2 separate regions of the Homo sapiens genome follow, and region 1 is linked to region 2. Evidence: fine-mapped expression QTL. A gene starts in region 2. The other region holds a variant in brackets. All regions are shown on one strand. Distances are from middle to middle.

Region 1 (8,335 bases), 83 kb before region 2:
ATTGTACCATGCTAAAAAGTTAGGTTTTCAAAGGAAATTAATTCCTCAGAGTAAGTTAACTGAGCCAGTTGATTTGTGGCTATGTGTACAAAGGCAAATGAAATAGAAAGTTGAGTAATTGCTCTGTCAATTTAGTCAATATTGACAGCCACTCTGGAGCACACAGTTTACTTTTTACTTAAATAGTACAGATAATTGTCTCAAATCTAAAAAGAAAGAATGACCCTGCATTTGTTCCCCATATGACATAAAACTGGTTACTGTGAGATGGAAAATTAAACCATATAAAAAGGTACTAGTATGAGGGTACTAATTCCTTAGGCATCAGAAGTACTTACTTATAAAGTTCTTTTCCCTTTAAGATAGCTACATGGTATGACCCTTAGGGAAAACGCCTCTGAAGACTCTATAGTTTTCAAGGAAAGGCACCAAAAAATTGAAATACATTTCCACCCTAAACACATTACTGACAATTCCACATCAACAAACAAGCTTAATCCTTCTTTAGACATATTTGTCTTGCTAGTTAAAAAAAAATTACTAGAACCATGACATTCCCAGTTATTTTGGAATAACTCTAAAATAAGCAGAGACCTTTAAATTCCAAATACTGAATTTTTAAATATGAGCAAAAGCACTTGAAAATAAACATTTATATTTTCATTTATAATTCTTCCAAATTCTAATTATATTTTCTGCATTCTTATCTGCATATGATTTTTACTTAAAACCTAGATGATGGGTTGATAGGGTGCAGCAAATCACCATGCATATGTATACCTATGTAACAAACCGGCACATTCCGCACATGTATCCCAGTACTTAAAGTTAAAAAAAAAAAAAAATCTGAAATTATTAAAAGATGTATATTTTTGCTTATTTTAAATTCATTTTTATTAATTGATAGTATCACCATTCATTAAAATTATATAAATTGATTTAAATATTAAAGCTAAGCCTATGTAAATTAAATGCCATTTGTTAGTAAAAATTGAATTTTGCTAAGAGTTTCAGGTTGATTTAGTTGCAATTGAGCCCTAAATTTAGTGCTCATCTTCTTGGACTCAAACATAAATTGAAAACATTATGGGATTTTATAGTTCTTATTGTCTAATAATAGAAACCAAAAATATTTGTCTACAGAGACAAATGTTACCAGCATTTAATTATTGTATGAATGCTTTGAGGAGCATGGCATAGACTTTGAGAAATATGACAGGCATCGACCCTCATTTTGGTTTTGTCTTGCTCCGTTTTGTACTGCTATAACATAATTCCACATCCTGAGTAATTTATAAACATTATAAGTTTATACCAGGCATGGTGACTCATGCCTGTAAATTCCAGCACTTTAGAAGGCCAAGGCAAGGGGATCACTTAAAACCAGGAGTTTGAGAGACCAGCCTGAGAAGCAAAGCAAGACCCCATCTCTACAAAAAAATAACAAATAAAATAAATTATCCAGGCACGGTGGTGTGTGCCCATAGTCTCAGTTACTCAGGAGGATGAGATGGAAGGATTGTTTGAGCCCAGGAATTCAAAGCTGCAGTGAGCTATGATCATGCCACTGCACTCCAGCCTGGGCAACAGTGAGGCTGTCTTTAAAAAAAGATAATGGAAAGAAGTTTATTTGGCTCATGGTTCCGGAGACTAGGAAGTCCAAGAGTATGACACTGACATCTGGTGAAGGCCTTCATCCTTCATCATCTCATGGCAGAAGGTGGGAGGGTAAGAGTGAAAGAGTAAGAGAGGGCCAACCTCATTTTCATAACTGCCCACTCACAATAACAAACCCACTCCCTCATGACCTAATTACCTCTTGAATGTCCTACCTCCTAAAACTACTGCACTGGGGATTGAGTTTCCAACACATCAACATTGGGAGACACAGTCAGACCATAGCATTTTACCTCTGGCCCCTAAAGTGCATATCTTTCTCATATGAAAACGCATTAGCTCCACCCCAATAGCCCCAGAGCCTTTACTCATTCCAGCATCAACTCAAAAGTCCAAAGTCCAGAGTCTCATCTAAATCAAATATGCATGAACACAAGGTATGATTCACACTGAGGCACATTTCTCTCCAGCTGTGACCCTATGAAATCAAAACAAATCATCTGCTTCTAATACACAATGGTGGGACTGTCATAGGCTAGACATTCCCATTCCAAAAGGGAGAAATAAGCAGGAAGAAAAGGGTAACCAGTCCCAGGTAAGTCCAAAACTCAATAGAGAAAACAACGTTAGGTCTTAAAGCAGGAGAATAACTTCATTTTACTCCATGTTCAGCACCCTGGGCACACTGGGGTGGAGATCGGGCCCCCAAGGCTTCTGGCAGCCCTGCCCCAACAGCTTTACTGGGCTCAGTCCATGCTTCAGATCCCTTGGGTTGGAGTTACATGCCTGCAGCTCTCAGGCTGGTATTGCACTCCGGTAACTCTATAGCTCTGGGGTATTGATGGCGGACTTACTCCAACAGCTCTACTAGGCATTACTCTAATAGGGACTCTCTGTAGTGGCCTCATTTTCAGAGCTCTACTAGGCACTGCCTTAGTGGGGGCTCTCTATAGTGGCTCTGCCCCTGTGACAAGTTTCTTCCTGAACCCGCATGCTGCCCAATACATCTTTTGAAATCTAGGTGAAGGTCACCATGGCCTCATAGCTCATGTATTCTGTGTCTGCAGAGTCAGCACCACATGACCACTGCCAAGGCTCACACTGTTATGGGATCCTTGGGGTGTTGCTTTTCCAGCTGGAAACCTCTGTGGCCAGTGGTGCCTTTGCCTGAGTTTTGCTCTGGCATGTGGGGCTCATTCCTCCCACTCAGCCTGCCAGGTTACTCTCGGTTCATGATACCGGCCTGGATCCCTCACCTGCCAAGGGTGAGCAAAGCATCAAGGAGTGTGTGAGTGAGTGAGCGTAGGGTCCAGCCACTTCACACAGCAAGGCACGCCAGTTGCAGTGGGGTGGGAAGCTTCAGGGGCTGGCACAGGCACCAGCTCCCTGCAAGGCTACAGCTGGATCAGGTGTACCGCAAGTAGCTTCCATAGCTGGCACCAAGGAACACAGTGGCACCCAGAAGCTTGGAGATGCCAGGAACCACAGATCCCCAAAGAGGGTATCACAGCCCTAGCTCAGGAAGCTCCTAGGTCTGGGCTTCCTGAAGGGCCGCAGCTCTTCTCTCCTTCTGTCTTCTCTCCTTCTTGTCACCCTCAACGTGGTGAGCAAGGGGTGCATTTCAGCCCTGTTTGTGTTACGGCTGCTTCAGCTCTGCTATTCAGCAGGTCCCGAGTTCTTGTCCTGCATCCAGGAAAAATGAGATATGCAGACAAGTGGAGGGTGAGCAAGGTGAAGA[G/T]GTGCTTTATTGAGTGACAAAACAGCTCAGAGCTGACCTGCAATAGGTACCTCCTCTCCCCAGGCAGGTCATCCTGAAGAGTGTTCAGCTCTCAGCAGAGAGGGGAACCACAGTCGGTAGCTCCTCTGCACAGGCAGGTCATCCAGGCGTTTGTTCAGCTCTCAGCAGAGAGGAGAACCACAGTCGGTAGCTCCTCTGCATAGGCAGGTCATCGAGATGTTTGTTCAGCTCTCAGCAGAGAGGAAACCCACAGCAGGTAGCTCCTCTCCACAGGCAGGTTGTCTCATCAACTGCTCAGCTCCCAGCAGAGAGGAGACTCACATTGGGTAGCTCCTCTCCACAGGCAGGTGGTCCTGTCATCTGCCTGAGTCCGCCTGAGTCCAGGGTTTTTATGGACTTCAAAGAGGAAGAAGTATGTGCTGATTGGTCCATGAGTGGCCATGGGCTGGCCAGAAAAAGCACCATAAGTTCTCACTCCAGTCCTCAGAACTGGCAGCCTGGCCCTCAGGCATTAGGCCGTCCCAGGCCTGAAGGTGGAGTTTCACCAGGGACCCCTTTCTGCCTAGGAGCCTGCCTCCTGCCACCATTAACCTGCTGTCCATGGTGTGCACAGCGCCCAGGCTGTTTGTGCCAAGGGATGCCCGAAGTCCTGCCCAGAGACACCCTTACCACCCCCACCATCCTCCCAACTGTGCTCATTGGCACCTAAAGTCCAGAGGGGGCCAAGGCAGCAAGGGGCTGGTATGTCAGCACTGCCCCAAGTGTGCACACACTCAGCTGGGTGGTGACAGCACCCAGGCTCAGCCACAACTTTGCTCTGAAATCAAAGTGGGTTCCATGAGTGAAGAGAGGCCATGCAGCAGGAGCAGGCACTTCTGAGCCTGCAGGGGCAGGGGGGCTTCATGGGCCCCCAAGAGTGCAGAGATGCCTGGGTGCACAGCTGCTGCTGCTGTGTGGCTGCAGCTGCACCAGGGATGGTGAAGCTCCTTCTTCTCCAACTTGGAAGGGGGCTGGGCTTCTCCCTGTTCCTAGCTCCCGCCAGCTCCATGGAGTGTGCAGTCCAAGTTGTGCCTCCCCCACTGTAGCCAGCATCATGGCAGTGGCCACTCCAGATAGGCTGCCACCGCCATCAACATCACTTTCACCCTCCAGAGCAACAACATGAGGTTCACCTGGGCCTGCCTGAGCCACAGGTGAGGTGACCAAGGAGCAGTGTGCCAGAATGTGGGGAGCAGAATCATGAGGTGGCCATAAGCAGCGCATGCTGAAGTCCCATGGGCCCCTTTCTGGATACGTTGCCCTGACTCACAGCCCTGTTCTGAAACTATAATGGGAGGAGCAGCCTACTCAAAGATCTCTGAAATGCCTTCAGGGTCGTTCTATCATTGTCTTGATAAATAGCACTTGGCTCTCTTCTATCTTTAGTAGTCTCTTTAGCAAAGTGTTGCTTGGCCACACCCTTGGTTTGTTCTTCTAAATGTGCCTTTTCACTTCTTATATGGCCAGGCTGATAATTTTCTAAATCTTTTCATTTTAATTCTCTTTTCATTATAAATTTCATCTTTAAGTAATATTTCTCTATTCATAGCTTCCTATATGTGGTTAAAATGGCCACATATCTTTTTAAATATTTTGCTTAAAAATTTATTCTGCCAGATATTCTAGTCCATTACTCTTAAATTCCACCTTTTATAAAGCCCTTGGGCAAGCCCTGGTAAGAAGGATGGCCTTTCCTCCAGTTTCCAATACCTCGTTCCCCATTTCCACCTGATACCTCATCAGAATTATCATTACTGTTCATATTTCTACCAGTATTCTGATAACAATGACTTAAGTAATCTCTAAGAGATTGCACTCTTTCCTACAGTGCTCCCTCTTCTGAGCTCTCACCAGAATTGCCCTTAGCACTCCATTCACAGCAACCTATGCGTTTTCTAGCCTGTTCCACCAAATTCTTCCAGCCTCTGTTCATGACCCAGTTCCAAAGCTGCTTCCACATTTACAGGTATTTATTCTAACAAAAGCCTTACTTCTCAATACCAGTTTTTGTCTTGGTTCATTTTGTGCTGCTATAAGAGAATACCACAGACTGATACAAGCAATAAAAGCTCATTCATGATTCTGGAGGCTGGGAAGTATGAGAACATGGTGCCAGAATTTAGTGAAGACCTTCTTGCTGAATCATCCTATCACAGAAGGTGGAAGGGCAAGAAAGGTTGAGAGCAAGAGTAGGCCAAATGTACTTTTAAAATAGCCCACTTAATAACTAGCAACCCCCTGAATAACTAACCCACACTTGCAATAATGGCAGTATAATTTGCAACAATAAGCACCTATTTTGTCTCCGATAAATTTGATGGAAATATTCTGCTTTGTCTATTAGAAGCAAATGTCAGATATGAAAATGATATGTCTCCAGACTTCCACTTTCCTGTCTGACATGTAAGGAACTTGGAAGTCTTCACTCCATTTTAACAAGTAAAAAGTTAAACAGGCTGTGCGCAGGGGCTCAGGCCTGTAATCCCAGCAGTTTGAGAGGCCAAGGCGGGCAGATTACTTGAGGTCAGGAGTTCGAGACCAGCCTGGCCGACATGGTGAAACCCCATCTCTACTGAAAGTACAAAAATTAGCTGGGCATGGTGGCAGGCACCTGTAGTCTCAGTTACTCAGGAGGCTGAGGCAGGGGAATTGCTTGAACTGAGTAGGCAGAGGTTTCAGTGAGCCAAGATCGCGGCACTGCACTCCAGCCTGGGTGGCAGCGAGACTCAGTTTCAAATTAAAAAAAAAAAAGTTAAAGTTAAATACACTGAGAAATTAATAACTCTTCTTAAATCTGTCAAAGAACTGTTACCTCAAAAATTGGAGACACCAACAAGTAGATACCAAGAATCACAACTTACTGAGAAGAAACCCAGCAGCAGAAACTTCTGCAGGGTAGAAAACTCCAAACAATAATCGAAAACATTGCTGGAGGCTCAGGTAAACAAGCCTAAGAAATAAAATCTTCATCAGAATCCAGTCATAAGGGACACTCACACTTTGGTTAGTTTCACCTCCACGGGCTCTACTAGATCTTCACAGTGTTTATCAAAGGAAAACCCCTTCCTGCATCCAGCAGGTAGAGGGAAATACATTAGATTCTTCTTAATAAAGCCTGCCCTCAGGAGAAATTATTTAACCAGAGGCTAGCCTGCTTGAGTTTTACCAGACCCTAACAAACTATGGGAAACTACAAAAGAGAGAGCATACACATAATGGGAATATCAGAAAAAGAGAAAGGAACAGAAGAAATATCTGAAGCAATGACTGAGAATTTCTCCCAAATTAATGTCAGACATCAAACCATAGATGCTGGAAGCTCAGAGAACAGAAAGCAGGATAAATTACCAAAAATCACTATACCAAGGCAGATAATATCAAATTTCAAAAGTACAGAAGATAATGAAAAAAATCTTGAAAGGAGTCAGAGGGAAAAACACTTTACAGAGAAGCAAATACAAGAATTATACCTGACTTCTTTTTAGAAAGTATGTGATATGGTTTGGTTCTGTGGCCCCACCCAAGTCTCACCTTGGATTGTAATCCCCATAATCCCCACATGTCAAGGGCAGGATCGAGTGGAGGTAATTGGATCATGGATGTGGTTTTCCCCGTGCTGTTCTCATAATAATGAGTTCTCAAAAGATCTGATGGTTTTATAACTGCACTCACTCTGTCTTGCTGCCCTGTGTAGAAGGTGCCTGCTTCTCCTTTGCCTTTTGCCATGATTGTAAGTTTCCTGAAGCCTCCGCAGCAACGCCAAACTGTGAGTCAATTAAACCTCTCTTCTTTATAAATTGTTGAGTCTCACGTATTTCTTCATAGCAGTGTGACAACAGACTAATACAGTAAATTGGTACTGGAGGTGGTACCAATTTTACGTGCTGTAAAAATACCTTAAAATGTAGAAGCGAATTTGGAACTGGATAACAGGCAGAGGTTGGAACAGTTTGGAAGGTCCGGAAGAAGACAGGAAGATGTGGGAAAGTTTGGAACTTCCTAGACACTTGTTGAATGGCTTTGACCAAAATGCTTATAGTGATATTGACAATGAAGTCCAGGCTAAGGTCGTCTCTGATGGAGAGGAGGAACTTGTTGGGAACTGGAATAAAGGTGACTCTTGCTGTGCTTTAGCAAAGAAACTGATGGCATTTTGTCCCTGCCCTATAGATCTGTGGAACTTTGAACTTGAGAGAGATGATTTAGGGTATCTGGCGGAAGAAATTTGTAAGCAGCAAAGCATTCAAGACATGGCTTGGGTGCTCTTAAAAGTATTTAGTTTTATGCATTCACAAAGACATTGTTTGGAATTGGAACTTAATGTTTTAAAGGGAAGCAGAGCATAAAAATTTGGAAAATTTGCAGCCTGATGATGTGATAGAAAAGTAAAACCCATTTACTGAGGAGAAATTCAAGCCAGCTTCAGATATCTGCGTAAGTAATGAGAGCCAAATGTTAATCTCTAAGATAATGGGGAAAATGTCTCCAGGGCATGTCAGAGGTCTTCATGGCAGCCCCTCCCATCACAGGTCCTGAGGCCTAGGATGAAAAAATGATTTCATAGGCCCGTTCCAGAGCCTTGCTACTTTGTGCAGTCTCAACACTTGGTGTCCTGCATCCCAGCTTTGGCTAAAGGGGGCTAAAATGCAGCTCAAGCCATTGCTTCAGAGCATGCAAGGCCCAAGCCTTGGTGACTTACATAAGCGGTTGGGCCTGCGGGTGCACAGAAGTCAAGAATTGAGGTTTGGGAACCTCTGCTTAGATTTCAGAGGACTTGACTTATCTTGGATGAGACTTTGGACTGTGGACTTTTGAGTTAATGCTGAAATAATTAAGACTTTGAGGGACTATTGGAAAGGCATACTTGGTTTTGAAATGTGGAAAACATGAGATTTGGGAGGGGCCAGGGTTGGAATATATGGTTTGGCTCTTTGTCCCCAT
Region 2 (8,335 bases):
AAAATATATTTAAAAAATCAAGGCCAGAACATCTAAATATTGTTCTCTAGGAGTGAAATAGTCTAGATACACGGTAACAGTCACACAGTATATACTTGTTGATTAGCAAATTGTTCACACATCTTTGAACATTTCTTAGCTTCTTTAAGTCTCAATTTCTTTGCCTATTCCCAATGCTGGCACAGTTCCTGGAATATAGTAGATGTTCCATAATCACTTGCTGAATTGAATTTATGTAATTACATTAGTTTTGGGAATAAACATAAAAAGGTGTATGAGTGCATGTGTGTGTGTGTGTCTTTGTTAACAAAAAGGTATATATCTTAAAATTCCTAGCAAATTATTTTAATAATATACACTTGGCAACTGGACAACTGTCATATAGAGATTGCATGCTCCATTACAATCTGTTATATTTACATTGGCTATTCTGAAACTAGCAATTTAGTGTGTCTTCTTCCTGATATTCATATTTGAAATAGAAATTCTTGGTCCCATGAGCAAAACTACTTGAAAATTCTGCAATTTCATGTTGCTTAAATGTGTCTGGGGAATCTCTAAAGTTGAATAAATGCCTTAGGAAATCCACCTACAATATCAGGATATAGGCGTCTAGAAGCAGCAAATCAGTTCTTAGGAAACAGAGAAAAGTGACAGAGCCCTCTGTACTTCGGAATTAGGACTGGAAACAATGTTTTGAAGGAACTAAAGGGAGACAGGTGCAGACCAAATGAATTAAGGACACCAGGGAGCCACAGGAGACCAGTAAGGAAATGAGAGGGAAGAATGCTAGAGAAAATACAGCATAAAGAGGAGGTGGTAGAGAATTTCTAAAAAAAAATGATTACAGGGACTGCTGAATTGCCAGGAGAGAAACAAACTCGGCCTCCTTTCATGAAATCCCTAAGTATCAACTCTCCCTTTCTGCCAGTATCTTCAAGAAGAGTAACAAAGGAACAGCAAGAATGAGAGTGAGATAATCATGCTTTTAAATTCATATTCCATTTCCTTGGTCATTAGGGTTTGTCCATGTCCCATTTGGCCAGAATTCCCTTTTTGTTATGGGGAGTTCTTTTCTTAATCGCTGGTTACGGAAACACCCAGAGTATTTCCAGTCATTGGAGAAGTGACTGGCCAGATGTTTCTTTTTTTTCTCCTTCCAGAACTCTTTGGTAAGGATTGAGGAGGTATCCTGAAAGTCTTCCTTCCACAGTTCAGGGTTTGGGCAGTTCATAATGTGGAATCTTTATTTAGGATACTTAAATCTATATATGTTTATACAAATAACTTGTTTTTGTTTTGTAGGAGGGTAGTGGGTTTTAGGAAGGTTTCGTTTACATATTTGTGGCAAGACACAGGTTTTATACCCATCCTTTCACTACTGCTTTCTCAACAGCCCAACAGAGAGCCGGTGATAGAAGCAGTTGCTATGCCCCTACAGAGCCTGGTTGTCATCTTTTGTTTCTTTGTTGGCAGGGCGGTGGGGCGGGACGGGAGTGGGAGGGTGTTGAGCCGCAGGGATCCAAATGATTCCTGCCTGAAGCTGAAGACCTTGTTGGGAAGGGACGATGGGAATAAACGTGCTCTTGATTCCCTGATTCTTCCCCCTAGAGTGTTCAGCTCTTTGTATTTCCTCCCCTTGGTGGTGTGATGGTCTTACAATGCTCCCTCTTTGCAAATACCTATATCAAAAGCTGGGAAAATGGGAACACACGGTTCAGAGAACTCCCCCTGGCGTCACTCTGTACTACCTCTCTTTCTGAAACTGAATCTGGTCCCCCTGCTCAGGAGCACAGAGACCAGCCCGGAAGCCGACCTTGGGCAGCTGCCGCCACCCAGGGAAGGGAACAGTTGGAAGCTTTGGTGTTCGCCCACCGCGCCAAGAGGAACTCTTCCCGGTAACTAGCACCAGCCACGACTCCAAGCCTGCCTTATTGTAACCTCTAGCGGGTTCCCAACTCGGCAATAGCTTCTCGCTCTCCTGTCCCTGTTCTTGCGGAGGAAAATTTAAAACGTGCGTGCACATATACGCATTCACACACGCCCTTCTTTCTTTACTTAAAAAAAAAAAAATCAGTAAACGTCCTTCGCCCAAAGAATGTTCGACTCTTCACGCTCTCTTTTCTTTACCTAGAGGTCAGCAGTCCCTTGGGAGCACACGCGGTGCTCCCTAGCTGCTCTGCGCGCCCCCTACCTGCCTACGGCTGGGGTGGCACCGCGGGGCAGGAGGCCTGGGAATCCGCTAGACTCCTATTTCTCCAGTTTGTGCAGCTCCCCTGGCTCGGCACTTGGTATCTCCCACGGTCTTGCTCTCTGTGGGAAGCCGGAAAGAAGACTGCTGTGGGCGTCGCCGCCACCCCTCCCGGAACCAGAGCCTGCTCTAGCGTGCATCCAAGCCTCCTACTTCAGACTCACATCTGGCCCAGTCGGACAGATGTTAGCCGCTGGAGAGTGCCTCCATGCGAAGCGCCCCAAGTCCCGAGCATGCCCAGTCGGACTACTAAGGCTTCTGACGCGAGTTTCTGGGCGTGCAGATTCCGCTTCTCCGCTTTTTCGAGGAAGCTGAGGAGGGTTGGGAGGGAGGGAGGGATCCAGGGCTTGGGGCAGCGCGCTGGGTTCGCCCGAGTACGTGCCCTGGTGCCAGGCTGGGTGAGGGGCGGAGCCGTTTAGGGAGCCCAGGAACCTGGGCGGCCAGGCAGGGCAGGATCCCTTAGCGCTCCCCTCTTCCCCCAACCACCTTCAGGTGGACGTCGTTACTGCTGATCTGATGCGCCGCCAGTAGGCTGCATGTGGCCGGCCGGCCTTGGCGCTCTGGGGTCACACTGTCAGCAGGACGCAGTCGGCGGTGCACTCTCACCGACAGACGCACGAGAGCTTGTGGGTCGCTTATGCACCGCATTCACGGGCTTTTGGCTTTTCTGGAAGGCGGGGGAGAGGAGAATAAGAAAAGGAAACCAAACAATTTCTCTCCCCCCGCCCTTTTTTTTTTTTTTTTGCCAAAGTTATACTGGCAAAAGACTTCGCATTCTAAGTCAGTCCTGAGGCTTTGAACATAGAAGCAGTGATTGTGCTCCTGTGTGTGCGCTCGTGTGCGCGCGCGTGTGTGTGCACGCGATGTTTGTGTATGTCATGACTAGGTAACACTGTCCCAGGCTGATCCTGGGGTTGACAAATACTCATCCGAACCCCCCACCCCACCCCTCACCCTCAGGAGAAAGTAATTAAAAAAAAAAAAAAAAAAAAAACATCGAGTGAGTCACCTGGCCAGGCATCTATCCACTGTAGTAGGAAATCTAAATTTTGTTGATCCATATTTCCTTCCTCTGCTTCCATATCCAGCTTTCTCCTTCCCCTCTCCACCCTATAACACCCTGATCTTTCTCATTGCGACTTCCCTTCCTCTGCCCGATACTTGCTCCTTAAGCCCTTCTCCTCTTTCTCCTCCTCCTCCTCTCCCTCTCCTCCTCCCCCCACCTCCCTCCACCTCCCATCTCAGCTGCGGCTAAAACCTGGAGTCTTGGGGAAAAGGAGAAAAAAAAAAAAACCTCGGCTGTGAAGCTGTCAAACCGGGCATGCTCAGTAGACAGGGCAGGTTTTTTGGTCTCGAGTAGCGGAGAAACATTTTTTGCACCACCGCGACCAGCCTTAGAGCGCGGCGGCGGCGGCCACGGCAACATCAGCCCAGCCATCAGCCGAGCAGACGCCCAGCACCCGGGAGCGCGGCGAGCTTCGGCTCAGCCCGGAGTTCACCTCCGAGTGCCCCGGGGGCTGAGCTCACCCCTTCTGCTCTCTCACACACGAACACTCTCTTTCACTCACACACACACACGTATTCACACTCTCTCGCACACACATAGGACCCTGGGCGCAAGCACCCTTCTGGCAGCGGTCGTCCGCTGGTGCAATAGTAGCTAGGTTCGGTTCCTGCCTCCGGCGGCCGCCGGTTTAGAGCACCGCTGCCAGCAGCCGGAGGAGAGCAATGCGGGGGCCCGAGCGGCAGCTCGAACAGTAATGTGGATTTACAGTCGTTTCCCGCAGGAGTCGGCCGAGACGCCCTAAGTCCCGGGCACTGGCAGCGCCCGGCGGAGCCGAGCACCTGGCGAGGGGGCGGGGGAACAGCACCTGGGGACGCCGCCGAAACTTGCGCTTGGAATAGGTAGGTGCGTTTCTCCTGGCTCCCACCCCATTCCTTCTCGCTCCCGCCCGCCACCCCCAACCTTCTACCCCAAGGACTACAGGCGAACTTCGCCCCGAGGCTGCAGGCGGCGGATGGCGGCTCCTGGCTGTTAGCGGCCGGTTGAGTCCGCTCTGGGACTCCTGCCCGAGGTGGCAGAGCCTCCGCATCCTTCTTCTCCCGGTCTCCGCCGGCCATGGGGCTCTGGACCATCTGGGGCAGAAGGGAGGTCGGCCTTGTTCGCAGTTCAAGCTTCCAGCGGGCCCTGGGGACGCTGCCCTTCGAGGGCTCGCTGGGCTTCCCAGGCGGCACTTTTACCAACCAACTCCTTCAGTTCTGAGAGGGAGCCTCCTCGCCTCGGCTCTCGCGCAGAGCCCAGTCACTCTAACAAGTGGACCTGGGTGCTTGGGGTGAGGATGGGAGGCTCGGTCTAAAAAGAAAGAAAGGGGCGCTTCTCTGGCATCCCTCCCACCCTGGAGCGTTCGCCTGGGGCTCTGCCACTGGGGTCCAGGTCCTGCTGTCTCCGCAGAGAATATGCCCAAGGGCTAGGACGCACTTTAGTACCTGTTTGCTTCTGAATTTCTATTTGAGCCTCACTCAGGGAGCCCGGGTTCCCGGGGGAACTGCAGGACCTCCTAACCTACGCCGCCGTCGAGGGCCCCACCCGATGCGTCCTCCCTATACCTTTGTCAATCTTTGTCAAAAGAGATAGTCATTACAACCCAGGCGGTGCTCCAGGAGCCGTCGGTGTTGACTTTAACCATGCGCTCCAATGTGCGGGTTTGTGTGTTTCCGCATTTCATCCAGAGACTTGGTCCCCGAGATTCAGCAACGGCCAGCATATCTGCGAGCGCCAAGCACCCGCTAGGCAGGCTTGGGGAAATGTAACCTCACTTTCTTCCACTCCATAACAGGAGGATTGCCAATTTAGTTTCAGGATGCTTTGCCTAGAGGCGGAGAAGGGGAGATTGTTAGCGCTACTTGGTGAGTGGATGTGTTTGCAGTCAGGAGTGTATTTAAACATTTCAGTGAACCCGATGCAGTCAGTTGTTTACAATTGCGGAGACAGAGGATCTCACTCCACTAGTAGATGTTTCCACGTCTGTGTCGCCACTGGGAGAGTAGGGGCGGGGGCGGGGGCTGGTTTGCAGCTCGTACTCGCCGTCGGCAGCTTCGGGTTGAGCAGATCTGCATCACTGCTACTGGCGATATGCTAATAGGGGTAGAAAAGCTCTACATCTCCAATATGAAGCAATTGGTCAGTAAACGTCCTGAACTTAACCGTTGTTTTCCTGGGATACCAACCTGGAGGTGTTTTTGAGGTGGCCCAAAGAAATACAAAGAGAAGTTCTCAGTGCTACAGAAAGGAAATTAGTAGCCATTTGGTTTTAAAGACCAAAAGGAAACGAAACATCCCAGTGCACTCTAATAGGTACTGTTAGATTAGCGTTTAATTGATCGCGTTTGTGACGAGTAAGTGTCGCAGACAGCTTCCTTGAATTTTAGACTCTTGTTCTATGATTATAATTAACAAGCCAGGTAACAATGTACTGTGAGAATCAATTGCTACTCTTAACGTGTTTGAGGAGAACATGGCAAATGTCTGCTCTATTATATTTTTTGGCTGAAATAGCCCAGTTCATCTTCCTAGTCCGAAGTCTTCTGATCTGGAGCAGTAGATACTCCAGTGTTACCAAGAAAGGGAAGAGTCTAAGAGGGAAAGGCTTAAAAAACAAAATTAATGAAAAGGCGATCCACACCTTTAACTTCTGCTCCATGATTACCCAGCATCTGCTTGCTTGCTCACCCCCGCTCCTTGCTCTTCATATCTGCAACGTGGGGAAAAATGAATTTTCATAAGGCATAGTAAGACCCTCAAAGTACATAACTGGAGAAACAGAATCCCAATTTTGCCATTTTAGTTCAAGTTCATAACACTATTTTGTGATGCATTAAATAATTTACTATGGCAAAGTTGGGGTTTTTAAGAGTAATTAAAAGCTTTCAGGTATGACAAAATAATGTTGAAAACTTTTCATGATTAAAGAAAGTCGAAATATGCATTTAAAAAGGGATCAGGTAATTCCTAAAATAAATCCATGCTCTAAATATTATTTAAAAGTTTTCAGGTTGTTCCCCAGAATGTTTCTGAAAAACAGGTGTTTCTATAAAACAACTCTATGAAGAAATGTTAACATTTTCATAATAAAACTAGTAGAGTCCAGTCCTGAGAACAATGTCAGCTATACATAGCAGAAAAAAACCCCACAAATATTTTTGCATACATGAAGTAGTATTTTCCATTAGGTTTAGGTTCCAATTATGAATTAGGGACAGTCATGTCATTTGACAAAATATACAGTGAGGCTAAAGGAAAGAATGCTTTGTAGAATCATTGTGCTGTAAAGGTGATTAAGATTTCAAATATTCAAACGTTTAGGTGTATTAAAATAAAATTGTATTATACATAACTATCATCACATTCAAAGGCCTAATTCAGTCTGAATACCCTAGAATTCTCAGTGTTTCAATTCAGCTATTATATGTGTAAATAACACCGACATAATCATAGTTTCCCTCATAGTCATTGATCCTTTCTGATACCTTTACCAGAAAGATTCTTGCTGAAGCAGAACAGTCTAGCATTCAAGTTTATTCTATACAATATTACTTTAAATTGTCAAACTGCAAAACATTCCTGATATGTTGTTTCTGAAAACAGAAAACTTAGTGGAAATTTATTTTCTGTGACAGCCTTAAAAACTTGGAAGTAGTAAGAAATTTTAGTGTTAATTAATAAAACAAACATTTTTCATATTCTATGTTAGAGATAGACATTTGGAGTCCATATAATTTTTGCTTGAAGCTTGCTTTTCCTAAGTCATTCAGTTTCAGATTTAAGTAAAGCTATCAAGTAGTTGGTATAGATTATGGTTAATAAATTCCCTAAAGTTTCCCAAAACAAGTTAATTATTATTATTTATGCATTTATTTATTTACTTACTTATAAATGACCAGAGGTCAAAAGAAGACCAGTACTTTGAATAACTGAGTCAGTGATTAATTTTTTTGATGAAAACAAATTTTCTTATAGTACTCATATTTGTTCTCTCTCTCTCTCTCTCTCTCTCACACACACACACACACACACACACGGAAGCAATTGCTTGTGAATGCCTTGAATCAGATATAAAACATGTACAATAGCTTTATTAAAATTATATATATTTGTTAAATTGCTGTGGATTTTAACCACAAAATTAATAATCCATGCGTACTTAAAAAGCTTCCCATCACTTAACATTTAGAAGAAAGGTTTAAACTGGATTCCTAGTATGACTACAGGCAGATGAAAAATATTGTAAGGTACAGAATTTAGCAATTGTGACCAACAGCATATACCCACGACTGGAAGTGTAACTGCTGATTATAAAAATTAAAAGGAATCAAATTTCAGAAATGCTCACATATACCACAATTTCTTTAAATCTTCTACAGCTTCTGAGTGTTAGATTAAATCACTACTTTGAATGGAGATTGCTATTATTTTTCCTTCCCCTAAAAGGTAAAAATATTCTGAATCCTGGCTTAATATATTATTTTTATTCCTTTCTGTTTTCCATTGATTTTTTTTAGAACAGAGGAAAGTAAATATCAAATATAACCAGCTAGAACCATGCTTAGTTTGAGCAGGTGAATGCTATAAAAGGCTTCACACAGCTTTTAATTATTCTTAACAACCTTGATGACCAACCATAGGTGTCTGTTCAGTATTCGGTGCTCTGTTATGGCAATTTATATAATGTATAGAGATTTTGTAGTTTGCTAGACGTGCTGTGGTACAATTTAGCAAGACCAGCAAAATTGCTTACATTTGGAACCCATGAAAAATAGGGCTGAGGAAATTGGAATATGATGGCATAGACTGAAAATTATTATATAACAATATTTATATCAATTGCAATGCTAACATTTCTGTATAGAAATTAAGCTAATTTAAATTTGAAAAGTAAATATTTTTACAGGTGACATGGATCCCTAATATTTTAAAATAGTAACTTAGAGTCTAATAAATGAAGTCTATTAGATTTTTATGTAACTTCAGGACCCATTTCAAGGCCTGGAAGTATAATCTTGGATAATTTACAACTTAAAAAATTA

The links.
Region 1: its variant is fine-mapped to the expression of TENM1 in whole blood (TOPMed, PIP above 0.99).

The regions. Positions count from the first base shown.
Region 1 is chrX:125,283,116-125,291,450 of GRCh38, reverse strand. No RefSeq gene overlaps it. Among named protein-coding and RNA genes, the nearest start is that of TEX13C, 33 kb to the left of the region's middle. The variant G/T (reference allele first, on the strand shown) is at 3,356.
Region 2 is chrX:125,199,625-125,207,959 of GRCh38, reverse strand. TENM1 (teneurin transmembrane protein 1) reads left to right here and starts at 3,648. Exons shown (of 35, transcript NM_001163278.2): 1 at 3,648-4,156. LOC124905211 (a long non-coding RNA gene) reads right to left here and starts at 3,500. Exons shown (of 2, transcript XR_007068314.1): 1 at 3,261-3,500; 2 at 1-2,918.